Linked DNA regions of Homo sapiens: region 1 is linked to region 2. The links come from fine-mapping of genetic effects on gene expression. Tissue or cell type: fibroblasts. Region 2 holds a variant in brackets; the other region holds the start of a gene. All regions are shown on one strand. Distances are from middle to middle.

Region 1 (8,106 bases), 130 kb after region 2:
TTTAAAGTTCCTGAGATTATTGTAAATTATTATTACATTATTGTAAATGCACAGCCAAGATTGAGAACCACTACTCAATGAAAGCTATAGCTATCATTTTCTCCCTTCTTTATTTCAGTTCTCTTGAAAAGTCTCACTTAAGCATGTCTACTTTATCACACCCATTCTTTCTCAATCTTCTGAAGCCTGGTTTCTGAACCACCACTCAGTTAAAACTGTTCTTGTTAAAGTTACCTATGGACTCCTGACAAATTCAGTGGTCACTGGGGCCCTCTCCTAACTTGACACCTCCTTACAGCATTCAAAATTGTTAACCTGTTCCTCCTCCACTGGAAAATCTCCCCGCCCTTGGCATCTTTCCTGATGGTCCTCCTACCTTGCTAGCTACTATTCCTCTAACTTTCAGACAATTCTTCTTCCTACTTCTGCTATTTATGAGAGTCTGTTCTCTGGCTGCCACTTTCACCAGGCTAAAGGCTTTCCCTGAGTCATTTCATCACAACTAAATCAATATAGCTTCAATTCAACCCCCAATCATCTCTCTAATCCTGATTTTCACATCCACAGATACAAACATCTATCTATATCTTCGCCTGAAGTTCCACTGCTTCCTCAAATTCAAAATAGCCAAAACAGAATTTATCATCTTCCTTCCATTTTTGTGTTCCTCATTTCCATCAACAGAACCCCAAGTCAAACCTTCACAGTCCTGAGTCCTCCTTTCTTCTCATAGGTGATTAGGACTTGTTAGTTTTTCCCTCACTCTGCCACAGTAAAGGTCTAAAATACAAATCCAATAAATGGCTTCTCATCTATCACGTTCAATCCAATCCCTTTAGCTAAGGATACCATTCCCTGATCTGGCCCTCTACCACCCTCACTATCTTCATCTGGCACCATTTCCTACTAACCCCTGCATTCAAGCCATATCAATGTCAATGTTATTGACTTTGTCAACTGCCAATGTCAATTGACACTGACTCGTCATTGTCAATGACTTATCTAAATTGCCACAGTTTCTCAGGCCTCCTTGCCTTCTCAATTACTATATCCTCCTCTTGGGAAGTTACTTACCTCCTGCACTTGGCAAAATCATATCATCCTTCACAACTTGGCTGTGTGCTCCCAACTCCACCTACACTCAAGGCAAGTTAACTATCTCCTACTCTAAACTCTCCTACTACACTAGGCATATCTCTATTCCCACTGACTACATAGTATTATAATTGTTAATTTACTGTAATGTTACTAACATCTTGTATGTTAGATAGTAAATTCCTTGAAGACAAGAGCTATGACATTCATTTCTGTATCCCTAGTACCTACTCAGCCTGGAAGAGTGAAAAAATAAATTTATGTTTGATATAATTTCAATCATTTATAAAATATAAACGATACCCCAAAATAGGTCTTGAATACTAAGATTTCTTAAAATTTCTTAAGATCCATTATAAAATAAATATTAGGCAACAGGATGCTGAATAAAACAGTACATATATTTAAACTCACCGTCAAAGACACCAGTCTAAAAAATACAACCCAGAGCAAATTTCATAAAACAGAAATACAACAATGAAAGGAAGCAGAGCAAGGATAAACGCTGACCCAGCTAATGCCTTATCGGGTGTCTGTATCCAGGTACTGCTAATGCCGATGACTAAGAAGGTTTCTAATCCTTCTAATCCCTCATGGTAATTTCAATAAATCGAATAAGGATAAACGAGCCAAATCCAGAATTTGTTTCCTAAATATGTGATGCTTTTCCCCCTTGCCACTTGGTTTGATTGAACTGATTATTTGAATAGCTGACTTTGAAGCCACTATTGGCCAAGCAGATCTTAAATGTTTTTCCTTCCTTGTCTTTGCCTGCACTTCAAAAATATGGTGGTTTAGACTACTATTCATCCTGTAAACCTTAAAATGTATTCACCTAAAGAAAAAAAAATACTTGGAAATGTCGGGGGAGGTGGGGTGCCTGTGGATGTTAGCAGTAGAATGTTTTCATGGAAAACAAGCCTCCCAGTCTTTCTGACTTTATGGCAATAAGATTTGAAAGCTGAAAACCTCAAACTGTAAAGTGTTACATGAACCAAAGAGGTGGCCCACCTGCTCCAAAAACTACTGTGTGATCCAAGGATAAATAATTTGCAAAAGGTCAGCTTGGCCCTACTGCCTGTAGGGCAGTCTCTGAGATAAGAAGTAGCTGCCGGTGGAACAAATTCCCCCTACCTGAAGAGCGCCGCGGCTGCCAGGCTTGTGATAGTGTATTTCTCAGAGAGCAGATTCTGTGCAGTACTAAACCACTTAGGCAAAATTAAAATCTTTCAGGAATGTCTAAACTCACAAAGCACACATGTGCAAGCTGACGGGCAGACAGCAAATTTCGGGGAAGCGTACAAACTTGGGGGTGTTTTAATGCAACCATTTTCAGCCAAACCCCCGAGGATTCCCGAGTATGTTAAAATGAGCCTCAGGAGAGGAATAACTCATAGAAAGAAGGGGCAAGGGCTCAAGAAGAGATCTTCAGCGAAATAACCAAGGAAGGAAGCGTGGCTGCTGTCTGAACCTCTCCGCCCTGCAGGGGACCAAAGACCGACTCGGGCCAACGCTGCTCTCCAGGGGGCGAGGGCGGGGGGTCGACAGTGACCATTGTGGCCACCAGACCGGACGGACAGTGGCGGCCTCGCCGAAGTAGAGGGCGCGAGTGGGAGAGGAGGCAGAGGCCAGAGCATCCGCCGCGGCAGGGAGGGGACGGGGGGCTCCCGCCCCAGGCCCACCCGGCAGAGGGGCGGCCGGTGGGGCCGAGGCGGCGGCACCCGGGTCACAGCAGGAGGCTGGACTGCTCCTCGCCGGGAAGGAAAGACCCGAGTCGCGCGCACAAAGCTGCCGCCCTCCAGGCAGCGGGCAGGCTGCGCCCAACTTCGGGGCGAGCAGCGCCGGCCGCAGCCCACCCGCCCGCCAGCCGCCCCCAGCGCCCCGCGCCGCCTCGCACCCACCCATGGCGCCTCGCGCGGGAGCCGTTACCCCCAGTGGAGCCGCGGCCCCAGGGACAAAGTCCCGGTCCTGTCCTCGCCGCCGCCTCGCCCCGGCTCCTCCCTGACAAAAAAAAGTTATCCGTTGCCGGACGCCCTGGGGGCCCGGCGTGGGTCTCTCGGCTGGACTCACCAGGGCGGCTGCCGGAGCTCCACCTGCAGGACCTCGACTCGTGAGGCTCTCAGCGACAGCGACGGAGGCTGCTCTGCTTCCTCCCGAGTAGCAGCACCACCTGCTCCCCTTCTTCCTAGCAGAACGGGTCCCGGTGAGCCATCTTCCCCCTCCTCTCACTGACTGACAACCCAGCCGGGAGAGCCACCACTGCCGCCAGCCTCTCTGACAGGCACGACCAGGGACCCGTCCTCAAGCAGCCAACCACCACCGCCCCACGCCAGTTCAGCCTATCGCCGTCCTCCGGGGCGGGATCAGAACAACTTCTCCACCAATGAGAATCTTCTTCTGCTGGGCCTGGGGCGGAGCCATGAGGCGCCTTGAGTGGGCGTGGTCTGAGCAATGGGCGTGATCCGGGCGTCCGAGGGAAGTTGATTGACTGTAAGGTTTGCGGTGGCCGCTAGGCGATGACAATCAGCGAAGGTCTCTTAGATTCTGAGCCGTTAGGGCTTATGGCCTTCTCAGAAAAAAATAAACCTTACCGGATGATGTGAAGGGTATCAATTTGTTTCTCTTTTGTGAGAAAAGAGAAACAAATTGATAATTTACTAGTCAGTAGGATTTACTTCCCTGTAATTAAATTCACAAGAATTTATCAAAATCTTATCAAATCCCGGGAGGAAAAAAAAATTACGTTTTTGCAAAATGGAAATACAAACTTCCCCCTCACTACATCATTGCTTTTGGGCTTAGCCTGGAAAAAGTCAAATACGATGCCTCAGTTTTCTTTCCATGGGGGTTGTTTTTATTTTTTCCATCATTCCTCCCTACTTTTTCTCTGAACATATACTAAATGTTTTGTATAATAACTGGAACCCGAGAACACCTGAACCTGCGCCTGCAGACAGTACTGCTGTTTTTGACCTTGTAAACCTCTCCTACCACATCCTTCTCAAGACTGGTCAGGATTAATTAGAAGAAAAACTGACCTCCACCCTAGAAGACAGGAAGTTCATTCTAGCTTTACACTAGAAATGGGCAGGATTTCTCCAGAAACACTAAGTGAACTTTTCAAACATGCTGAACTCATAAATAACAAGCACATAAATAAGAAGATATATTACTTGATATCAAAAGGGTATCAAGCAAACAATTTCAGGTAATTATTAGGGCAGATTGCTAAAACAGATAGGATCCCCCTCCAAAGGGAGGATCAGATTAATGAGTAAATAATAACAAACTACAGTGATAAGGACAATAGAGATTGGTTCAATGAGCAATGGAAACAGAGGACAAGAAATGACTGTTTAGGAAAGTCAGCGAACTCCACAAGGAAGGTAATGTTTGAGTTGGATCTTAAAAGGTAAATGGGAGTTTGCCAGAGAAGAAAGTCAAAGGGTATTTCAGAAAGGGAGAACACCATGTTCAAAGGCATGGAGCTGTGAAAGGGCACAGAGCCATTGTGGAATGTTGAGAAGGTAGATGGGGTTAAATGATGAGGAACGGCCAAAAATTGGGCTGGAGCAAAAGGTTGAGGTGAGATTGTAAAAGACCTCACAAGCTACACTAAGATATTCAGACAAGCACTGTCCAGCAGAGCTTTCTGCACTGGTGAAAATGTTCTATATTTGTGTTGTCCAAAATAGTAGCCATTAGCCACATGTGGCTATCAAATACTTGAAATGTGGTGTGACTGAAGAGCTCAATGTATTTATTTATTTATTTATTTATTTTTGAGACAAGGTCTCACTCTGTCACCCAAACTGGGGTAGAGTGCTTAAGTGATCCTCCCACCTCAGCCTCCCAAAGTGCTGGGATTACAGACATGAACTACCATACACGGCTGAAACTCAATTTTTAATTTTTTTTTTTTTTGGCAGAGTCTCCCTCTGTCACCCAGGCTGGAGTACAGTGGTGGGATCTTACCTCACTGCACTTCCACTTCCCAGGTTCAAGCAATTCTCCTGCCTCAGCCTCCTGAGTAGCTGGGGTTACATGAACTCACCACCACACCCAGCTAATTTTTGTATTTTTTGTAGAGACAGGGGTTCACCATGTTGGCCAGGCTGGTCTCGAACTCCTGACCTCAGGTGCTCCACCCACCTCAGCCTCCCAAAGTGCTGGGATTACAGGTGTGAACCACCATGTCTGGCATTAATTTTTAATTTTAACTTTAACAACTCCCATATTGGATAGCTCAGGTTTAGATTTTCTTCTTAAGGCAATGAGGGACAGACAACAGCTTTTAATCATGTGGACAATGCAATCAGGTTTCTTTTAAATGGTGAGAATCCAAAGAAAAAAAAACAGGGTAGAGAGGAAATTCTTGACAGATCAGACTGACTTAATTTAGGTCCCCTTGGCCAGAGCCTGTTCAGGACAAGTGTTTACTCAAAGAAATAGGGAGAGGAAGATCCAGGCAGCATGTTATTCATCTTAGAGAACACAAGCAGTCAAAACCTGAGACGTTGAATTCTGCCGTCAAGTCCCATTGAGTAGGAGAGTGAGGGACCAAGGAAGGAAAGAAACCGAGTCAGCCAGATCATAAGATAGAGAGAAACAAGAGTGGGCAAAAGAGTGCACACCTACGCGCATGCACACACACACACACACACACACACACACCATCAGTTTTACTGGCCATTGGCCATGTGTGCCAGTAATGTGTTGACCTGATTTGAAGAGCCAAAGTTTCTGGTGGCAGGAAGCCCAGCCAAGACCAGGACAAGATTCCAGGAGAGAATCTCGAACCAAACCTGTGGAAGTCAGGATGGAAGGGACAGGTAAATATTATTGACTTCCTGTACTGTACAAGGCACGTGGCTTGTCAAGGATACAGATGAATGCTAGAAGCTTGCTTATAGTATAGTTAGCTGCATAACAAACAGATGAAAGGTTAAGCAAAGATTAAAGTAATTATTTAATGCAGCAGTGGAGAGATTACATAAGGCAGTACATAATCGATTCATTGTTCAAATGATTTTCTAGGCATTAGCCGCTGTGTTTTCAGAGGAGGATGCAAGCACTGCAGTCAAGGGCAGTCAGGGAAGGCTTCATGAAAAAGGCAAAATGGGCTGGGTCTAGAAAACTGGGGAGGAATTTGAACCAGATAAAATGGTGAGAAAGTAACTCCCAGAATGCCTGGAGAAATAACACAAGAGGGGAAGCACAAGCAATGTTCAGAGGGCATGGGAGGCAACTTGAGTCAGCCAAGCCTGGCAAGCTAGGTTGCAGATAGATAATAGAACACCTTGAAGGCAAGCTCAGTTGTTCAGATTTTCTCCTTTTGCCTTGTGGCTTCCTGTCTGCTCATTAGAATCACTTAGGATGCCTTTCAAAATTATCAGTACTCAAACCGCACCCCACAGTAAATAAATAAATAAATTGGTGTGTGAGGCTAGTCATTGGGTTTTTAAAAAAGCTTCCCAAGTGGTTCTAATATACACCCAAGGTTGACAAAAGGGAAATAATATAACATGTTACTAGTGCCAAATCAGTGCCGTGCATAGGATAGATTGAGTGGAGAGAAACTGAAGTTTGGCTATGTATATTTATATATAATTTGTTTCCTTCCTGCAAGAAGACAGGAAGCAGTTTACTGCCTGACTTCACTTCCCATTTTGCAGTGGTAAGGTAGTATAGAAGGCAATTTAAGTTGTCTTCCCTCTAAGTCAGAGTAAAACGAAAGCACAAATTTATGTTTCCAGTCTACTCTCCTTTCCATCACAATTTGTGCATATAAAAATAATTTCCAACAATAACAGTCTGCAGTTAAGTTTTACACATAGCCGTTTATATTTTAATCGCAAAGCACCAGAAAAAATGCCTAAGAGAACATTCTGTTTCAAAAGGAAAATGCTTTTAACCTACTTTATAAAAGTCAACATATTCCAGATCTTTCCTGCTCATCTTTGCTAGTCTCTGATATCCACACGCATAATTCTAAAGTAACTATTAAAATGCATTTATCTTCTTGCAAATAACTGTATAAAAGTGCCAGTTGAACATTATAAACATAAACATTTTCCCTATGACATTAAATTTCAGGAATTTTAAGAAAAATTTAGTTCAAATATCTTTCTCTTTTTTTCTTTTTCTTTTCCTTTCTTTGTTTCGTTTTGTTTTTGAGACAGAGTCTGATTCTGTCACCCAGGCTGGAGTGCAGTGGCACCATCTTAGCTCACTGCAACCTCCACCTCCTGGGTTCAAGCGATTCTCGTACCTTAGCCTCCTGACTTGCTGGGGCTACAGGTGTGTGCCACCGTGCCTGGTTAATTTTTGTATTTTTTTGGTAGAAACATGGTTTCACCATGTTGGCCAGGCTGGTCTCGAACTCTTGGCCTCAAGTGATCTGCCCACTTTGGCCTCCCACAGTGCTATGATTATAGGTATGAGCCACCATGCCCGGCCTAGTTCAAATATTATATATTTCTATTAAAGTCAATTGGACAACAACTGTTGTTAAAATGGTTAAAATAGATAACATGATTATTTTAAATTAAAAAGAATTTTGTTTAAAAAAACATGAAAAATATGTCAAAATGTTGCTTTTGTGGTATGTTAAACATTCTTTAAGAAAAAAGAAAATCAAAGAAATGAAGTCAAAACAAAAAGAGTGTGCCTGAGAGGTCATTCAAGGGCTTGCTATATCAGATTCCCTTTTTAAGGGAACTACCCCAGCCAGTGGACCCAGCTGAGGCAGCAACCTGAGCCATGATCTATACCATACAACCCCCTTCATGAACTGTATAACCCAAGGGCAGCCAACCTCAAGAGGTGACCTGACATGAACACCCACTCTCTTTCAAGAATTTGAACTGGAAATAGGAAGAGAAAATCACGTGGTGGAAGCAGAAGCTAAAAAATCAGTCAGTAGAAAGAAGCCCTGAGAAGCTATAAAAAGGGCACGTTTTCAGTAAACTGAAGCCATTAGGTAGCGTCAAGACGTATAAAGTGGATGGT
Region 2 (8,107 bases):
CCAGCTAATTTTTGTATTTTTAATAGAGATGGGGTTGGCCGGGCACTGTGGCTCACACCTGTAGTCCCAGCACTTTCGGAGGCTGAGGCAGGTGGATCATGAGGTCAGGAGATCGAGGCCATCCTGGCTAATATGGTGAAACCCCATCTCTACTAAAAATATAAAAAATTAGCCAGGCGTGGAGGCGTGCACCTGTAGTCCCAGCTACTCTGGAGGCTGAGGCAGGAGAATCGCTTGAACTTGGGAGGCAGAGGTTCCAGTGAGCCAAGATAGCGCCACTGCACTCCAGCCTGCGTGACAGAGTGAGACTCCATCTCAAATAAATAAATAAATAAATAAATAAATTAGAGACGGGGGTTTCACCATGTTGGCCAGGCTGGTCTTGAACTCCTGACCTCAAGTGATCAGCCCACCTTGGCCTCCCAAAATGCTGGGATTACAGGAATGAGCCACTACACCCAGCCACCTTCCTCTATTTGTTCTATATTTGATAATTCAAACATATTTAAACAAAAATACACATTTTTGCATCTAATATTTTGAGACATCCTAATGTCCTTAATATTGCAGTTCTCTTAACCATCCAAAGATAAAAGATTAATTTCATTTTGATTCCTCTCTTACCCACATTCATAAGGCACAACTTATAAAAATAAAAAATCTTGGACTCATGAGGTAAATCAAAGTTGCTCCTAAAACACATGTATTTAAACCACGAGCATTATTAAACAATAAATATATATACATTATTTATTTGGAGCAAATTTTGCCAGCTAATCAGAAAGAGTAAAATGCTGTTTAGCATGAATTTGCTTTTAGAGAGTACACCAGTGCTGGATAAAAATACAGGCACCAAGTTAGGGGATTCTCAGGGATTTTGTTTTCTTTTGACAAAGTTGTCTTCATTCATTTGTCACTGAGGGACCGCTAGGGAAATATCCACCTGTATCCCTTTTCTTAAGTCTAGAAATAGAGAAATAAGCAAGGCATTTCCATTGATATATGTGCCATAAAGGAAGTAGCCCAGAATGCAATGAAAGTATGTAAAAATGGCAGGAAGTTGCCCCACGGCAAAATCTGAGGGCCAAGAAGGAACTGAACTAGCAAGTGAGGATTAGGGGTAGAGACAGCTCTCCAGGTTGGGAGAACAGTGGGTACAGAGGCCTATTGAAAAGAGAAAGGATAACTGCAGACAAAATCCAGAGGTTGGGGTGGAAGGTGCGAAAGTCGGAGAGGAATAAGAAAGGGAAGGGATGAATCAAGTCTGGAGAGAGACTCCCCTTTACCTGGGAGGAGCAGGAAGGAGCGGTGGATCACCAAAGCTGCTGTGCCCTGATATGGCTTGGCTGTGTCCCCATCCAAATCTCAAATTGTATCTCCCAGAATTTCCACGTGTTGTGGGAAGGACCCAGGGGGAGGTAATTGAATCACGGGGGCCAGTCTTTCCTGCGCTATGCTTGTGGTAGTGAATAAGTCTCACAAGATCTCATGGGTTTATTAGGGGTTTCTGCGTTTGCTTCTTCCTCATTTTCTCTTGCCGCCACCATGTAAGATGAGCCTTTCACCTCCCACCATGACTCTGAGGCCTCCCTAGCCATGTGGAACTGTAAGTCCAATTAAACCTCTTTTTCTTCCCAGTCTCAGGTATGTCTTTATCAGCAGTGTGAAAATGGACTAATACAGCCCTCTGTGGATTCCCAGCTGCAGGCGGCCTCCTCTCCAGCCTTTCAACACACTCACCCTGCACCTTCCCCACAGAGCTGGGGGCCAGGGCCTGTCTCAGCTACTTGCCAGGACTCCTTTCCTGCTTCCTCTTGCCCATCCTGACCATCACTCCTTATTTTCACCTTTCTGATGCCCATCAGAAATGGGGGTCATAAATGGGGGTCAGAAATGCGGTTCTGATTTAGATCTTTAGTGCCACAGGAAACACAGTTATCAGTGCAGAGTGAGTGTGGGAAAGTTTTCAGGAGAGAAGAGAGGTCATTTAGGAGAGTGGATCAGACCCCCATCTGGCCAGGCAGTGGCATCCCAGTCTTCCTGGTTATGCCCTGCAATCTCATGTGTGTCTTCCTGGTTTTAGAGAGCCCTGCTGAAAGCCCTCTTTATGGCACCCACTGCCTTCTACCCTACCTCATCGCCACATCCCCTATGGAGGCTACCACTGATTCAGATCCATCATTGCAACCCTCAGCAGAATAGCCCTGCTATAGTGGCAGGGATTCCATATCTACCCTTTCCTTCCTTCCTCCCCTCCTCCCTTCCTTTCTTTTCTTTCCCTTCTTTTTTCCTTCCTTCCCTCTTCCTTCCTCCCATCCTTCCTTCTCACCTGCCCTCTTGTATGTATTCATGTATTTAGGTATTTTGCCAGGCATTGGGGATAAAGTGGTAAGAAAGTTGGAGAGGGTTCTTACACTTACAGCCCAGGGATAACAGCAAATAGACCATGAATTACAACCCAGTGTGATAAGTTTCAGCTTAGACAGGGTGAGGTGCCACCCCATCACCCCAGAAGCTAGTCATGGAGGAACCATGGCAGGTCACTCAAAAGGCCCTCTGGAACCTAAAGGTTGGCATATGGCACTGAGGAAGGACATTGACTCTGGACATGTCAACCCCTGACACAGGAGCACTACCCAGCCACCCACCCCAACACTGAAACAGTGCCTGGGGTCATTCACACCCGCAGAGGTCACCAACCCTGTGGCCTCTCCCCAGGTGCACCCTCTGTGCTTCAGCACTTCAGCCATGCCTGAGGCATCAGGGTTTTGCTGTCACTCCACACCCCAGCACTGGACAAATCCTCCAGTGACAGAAACTGCATTAAAGTGCTGGAACCACAGTCTGCTCAAGCCAACCCCACTGGCCCATCGGCTGGTGGAAAGAGCTTCTTGGGAGCTAGCCTGCCACAGCAGGAATTCTCTGGAATGTGTCAGGATCTTCCATCTGGCCCAGTCTGGGTAGAGGGTCTGGCCAGGAGAAGATCACTCCTCACTGGCTAGTCTCCCTTCAAAGTCTCAGCACCAGGTTGGTCCTTGGGCTGGGCTGCCATTGGACTGCATTTCTCGTGTCCACTGACATTCCCACTTCCCTAAATGACCTCTCTTCTCTCCTGAAAATTCTCCCACACTCACTCTGCACTGATGACTGTGTTTCCTGTGTCACTAAAGATCTAAAAAGCATGGGAGAGGACTTCCTTGAGCTCTCATCCCCACACCTGCCCCCCTGCCTGCACCCAGGCCCTGGGCTCTGCCACTCCTCCTGTCTCCAGGCTCCTGGCACAG[A/G]CCAATTCCCCCCCACATCCCTCTTCCCTCCAGTCTTTCTTCCCCCCTGCTCATGTGTCCTCAAACGTTCTCTTTACTAGGTCTTACAAACAAGCTGTTATTCCAAGAATCTCTTCAAAAAACAGCAACAAGGCTTTCAGCTTTCAGCTGGGAGGAGGCCAAGGTGCAACTTTCTTGGGTCGTCCTGAATCTAGCCACCTCTGCCATGCTGCCGAAGTTCTACCCCAATGAGATCAAAGTCACATACCTAAGGTGTACTGGGGATGAAGTGGGTGCCACGTCTGTGTTGGCCCCCAAGATCAGCCCCCTAGGTCTGTCTTCAGAAAAGGTTGGTGATGACATTGCTAAAGCAACTGGTGACTGAAAGGATCTGAGGATTACAGTGAAACTGATCATTTAGAACAGAGAGGCCCAGATTGAGGTGGTGACTTCTGCCTCTGCCCTGATCATCAAAGCCCTCAAGGAACCGCCAAGAGACAGAAAGAAACAGAAAAACATTAAACACAGTGGAAATATCACTTTTGATGAGATTGTCAATGTTGCTCAACACATGTGGCACCGATCTTTAGCCAGAGAACTCTCTGGAATCATTAAAGAGATCCTGGGGACTCCCCAGTCTGTGGGCTGCAATGTTGATGGCTGCCACCCTCATGATATCATAGATGACATCAACGGTGGTGCTGTGGAATGCCCAGCTAATTAAGAAGCACAAAGGAAAATATTTCAATAAAGGATCATTTGAAAAACAAACAAAAAAAAAAAAACACAAAAAAACAAAAACAGCAACAATAACTTTCTCTTGGCCTCCCTGTTCTTCTCTTGGCTACTACCCCAGCTCTCTACTCACCTTTATATCTTGAAAGGATCATTTGTTCTTGCTTCAATTCTCCCTCAACCCACTGTGAACAACTTTCATCCCCATCTCTCAACATATCTACTCCTCACAAGGTCATCAATTACCCCCCACAGGGTGCAATCCAGCTGTCAGTTCTGAGTGCTCATCTCTGCATGTGACACCTTGCTCCCTTCCTCCTTTGTGAACCCTGCCTCACTAAGCTTCATGCACCCCCTTCTCCTGGCTTTTCTCTTCCAACACTGGCTGCTCCTTCTATTGCCTCCTTTACCAACCTCCTATCTTTAGCGTCCTCAAGCATCTGGTCTTGGACCCCCTCCCCTCCACTCTCCTCCCCTGCCCTCTCCTCCTCTACCCTTCCCTTCCCTTCTCTTTCCTTTCTTGACAGGGTCTCACTCTGGTTGCCGAGACTGAATTACAGTGGTGTGATCTCGGCTCACTGCAGCCTTGAGCTCCCGGGCTCAGATGATTCTCCCACCTCAACCTCCTGAGTAGCTGGGATTACAGGCATGCACTATCATGTCTGGCTATTTCTTAATTTTTATTTTTAGTAGAGACAGGGTTTCACCATGTTGCCCAGGTTGGTCTCAAGCTCCTGGACTAAAGCAATACACTTGCCTTGGCCTCCCGAAGGGCTGGGATTACAGGAGTGAGCCTGGCCACCTCTTCTATTTTCTATTTAAACCCACTCCTTTAAGGATATCACCAGCCTCATGATTTAAAATACCACAAGGCCGACAAGTCCCAAATTTCTAAGTCCAGCAACCACCACTTGTCCAACATCCATGGGAGCCTGAGTAGGCGTATCACATTTAACATGTCCAAAACGGAACTCCTGATCTTATTCCATTCAAACTCGTTCCACCCCCGGCTTCCCCATCTTAGTGAGTGAAAACTCCATTCTTCCTGTTGCTCAGACCAGAAAACCTTCATCTGTTCTCTCTTTTAAACCCTACACCCCAGTCAGGCATCATGTTGCCTGAGCCTTCAAAAGAATATCCTGAATCTGATTACTTTTCACCACCACCACTGCTACCAGCCTAAACACCCCCACCTCTTTCCAGGGTTATTGCAATATCCCCTCACTTATCCCCTATCTGTGCCTTGGCCCACTTTCAATCTATCCTCATCATAGCAGCGAGAGGGGTTCTATTAAAAATCTAAGTCAGATCATGAAACTCCTCTGCTCAAAACCTCTAATGGTTCTCATCTCACGTAGGGTAAAATACAAAGTCCTTACAAAGGTCCACAAGGGCCTCAGGATCTGTTCCCTCCATTCACTTCTCTGACCTCCTCTACTACCCTACCCCATCGACTATGCTCCAGCCACATGGACTTCACTCCCATCTCCCGAACCTTTGCACTTGCCATTCCCTCTGTCTGGAATACTCTTCCTCTAGGCAGGCTCAGGAGTCAGGCCATCAGCCCATCAACCCCATCAACTCCATTGGGTCTTTATTTAAAAGTTATCTTTGCAGTAGGACCTTCCCTACCCACCCCACCTAAATATTGCACCCTTTATAAAAGCACTGACCAACAGAACTTTGTGCTTGATGAAACTTTATCTTCACTGTCCAATAGGATGGCCACTATGAGGCTTTTGAGCACTGGAAATGTGGCTTGTATGACATGGAAATGGAATTTTTAACTTTAACTAATTTAAATATCATCAGCCACACAAGGCTAGTGGCCACTATGTTGTAAGCACAGCATCTTTACACTCCTTTATCTCTTTTTGCTGCATTATTTTTTTGCTTACTATTTGCCACTAACATACTACATAATTTACTTATAATTTATTCATACATCTTGTTTATAATTTGTTTTCCTCACTAGAATGTAAGTGGAAAAAACAAATTATGACTACACGGAGAATGAGGGGCAGGAATCTTTGTCTGTTTTGTTCACTACTATATTTCTGGTACCTAGAACAGTTTCTGGCACATAGTATATACTAACAAAATCTTTGTTAAATGAAGGAACACGCAGTAGGAGACTCTACAAGCTCCACCCAGGCATTGCTCTGCTCTCTGTCCATGTCTACTCTCTGCTAATTTGCCAGACGTTGATCTAACTTTCATCTCCTGACCTGGATGTTCATAGGTTCCTCTGGCCCTTCTCCTTCTGAATGGTTTCTTCCTTCAGAAACCAGTGTCTAGTTTCCCAGTGGTGTACCCACTACCTTCACTTCAACCCACCAGTCTATAGCCTCTTGGTCCTCTCTGCCAGCCTTGGCTCTGTTGGGCTTCTCTTTAACTAGGCTTACCTGAGACAACAAATGGCCAAGAGCCATGGGGTAGGCCAAGAGTGCTGTCAGCCTATGCTTCTCTTCTTTGCTAAGACTCCAGAAAACAACACAGCACTTCACGGCATCTCTCGGCAGTCAACCAGAGTTAGAAGCTGGACCTCAGTCATCCACACCACATGCTAAATCATCACCAAATGGCCTCATGATGAAGGACTTCACACACAGAAACCTTCTGGGCATAGGTCACGCCTTCTATGCCTTTCCAGGACACATGACTGTGGCCCCCAGTGATGGTTAGGTGGCTATTACTGAGCTAAGACTCTACAATGAGTGTCTTGCTTCCTTTCTAAAAGAAACCCTACCCTTGGGCCAAGGGATAGGGAAGGGAACAGAAGGGAATTCTAGTTATGGCTGTTCTTTGTTTTAACCAATAAATGGATTTCCATTTTAAGAGCCCAGATGTCAAGAGTATCTTATTATAGTGGCCTCACACAGGCTGGGAATGAAGTAGAAATTAGAATGGTTGTTGAAAACTTTCCGTTTTCTTCTTCTTTATTAAGTCTGATGACTCAGACTTGATCTAGGGCTTTTTGTAACAGCCAGGCACATCCTCTTACATAAATGAGAGAAGATGTAACCACCTATTATAATGCCTTGCATATAAGGGACACTCAACAAACGGTGGCTAATAATATGATGAGTAGAAATAAATATTCTGTTCTGCCTCACAATGTCTATCACAATGAAAACAATTGTGGGAAGTAAACTGTATATTGAAATGTATTACCAAAATCGAAAGTTAAGCAAAAATAGTTTCCATAGATAGCTAAAAACTTTCTGTTTTTCCTGAGCTAAAGAAGAACAAGAAACTAAAACTCCTTTCAGGCACCATTTATCTTTCTGTTAAACATCAATCTGATGTCATGTGGCAAGAGTTTTAGTTTCATTTAAAAATCATTTCTGATATCTTGTGGAACAGAACAATTTCCCTTCCAGAGAAAAAGGGTATCTATTTAGCCAATGACAAACAGCTTCCATTTTCTCCTTTTTTTTAACTTTCTTTTTTTTTTTTTTTTTTTTGTTAACACCACTTTTGTTCAGGGTGACAGTACACCTGTAGCCCAAGGGGATGAATCACAGTAGATATAAATTCCACGTGGTGATTTCCTTCCCTAGACTACCCTGTAGCTAGGATTGGCATAGGACCATTCTGGCCAGTGAGGTATAAGTAGAAGTCTCCTGGGGGCTTCAGGGAAAGAATCTGCTTTCTGATAAATGATGCAAGTGCAAGAGGAGAGTTTGCTTTTGCTCTTCCCCACCCACATCCTGTCTGGGAGTGTGACAGTGCCTACAGCTGCAGCAGCTGTCTTGCAATCATGAATTGACAGTGTCAGAAGCCAATCTGCTGAAAATGACAAGGCAGATGGATAGATCAACATGGGGTCTCAATGGCATCACTGAGTGGCTGCACCAACACTAAATGGACAACAGCTGCAATTCTTGTTTAGCCAAGGTTGAAGGTTCTTAAAATTGAAACTCTTGTCAGTTGAGTTTTATTTGCAGCCAGAAGCAATTCCAACTGATTCACAGACCTTTAATTACTAGTTCAATGACTACCCATACACCCAGTATCTAAATTTAACTACTTCTAATATTTACCACATTTGCTTTTTTCTCTAAGTTTTCAATATATGTGGAAGATAAATTGTAGACATAACGCTT

What was found. PIP is the estimated chance that this variant, and not a neighbour inherited with it, causes the effect.
Region 1: it holds the start of HYCC1, and the variant in region 2 is fine-mapped to the expression of HYCC1 in fibroblasts (GTEx, PIP 0.95).

What each region holds. Positions count from the first base shown.
Region 1 is chr7:23,010,760-23,018,865 of GRCh38, forward strand. HYCC1 (hyccin PI4KA lipid kinase complex subunit 1) reads right to left here and starts at 3,371. Exons shown (of 11, transcript NM_032581.4): 1 at 3,166-3,371. RefSeq lists enhancers at 2,073-2,754, 3,172-3,361, 3,522-3,701 and a silencer at 2,712-2,981.
Region 2 is chr7:22,878,404-22,886,510 of GRCh38, forward strand. All of the region lies in intron 3 of LOC107986776 (a long non-coding RNA gene), which reads right to left. It also overlaps the pseudogene RPL12P10. Among named protein-coding and RNA genes, the nearest start is that of SNORD93, 26 kb to the left of the region's middle. The variant A/G (reference allele first, on the strand shown) is at 3,285.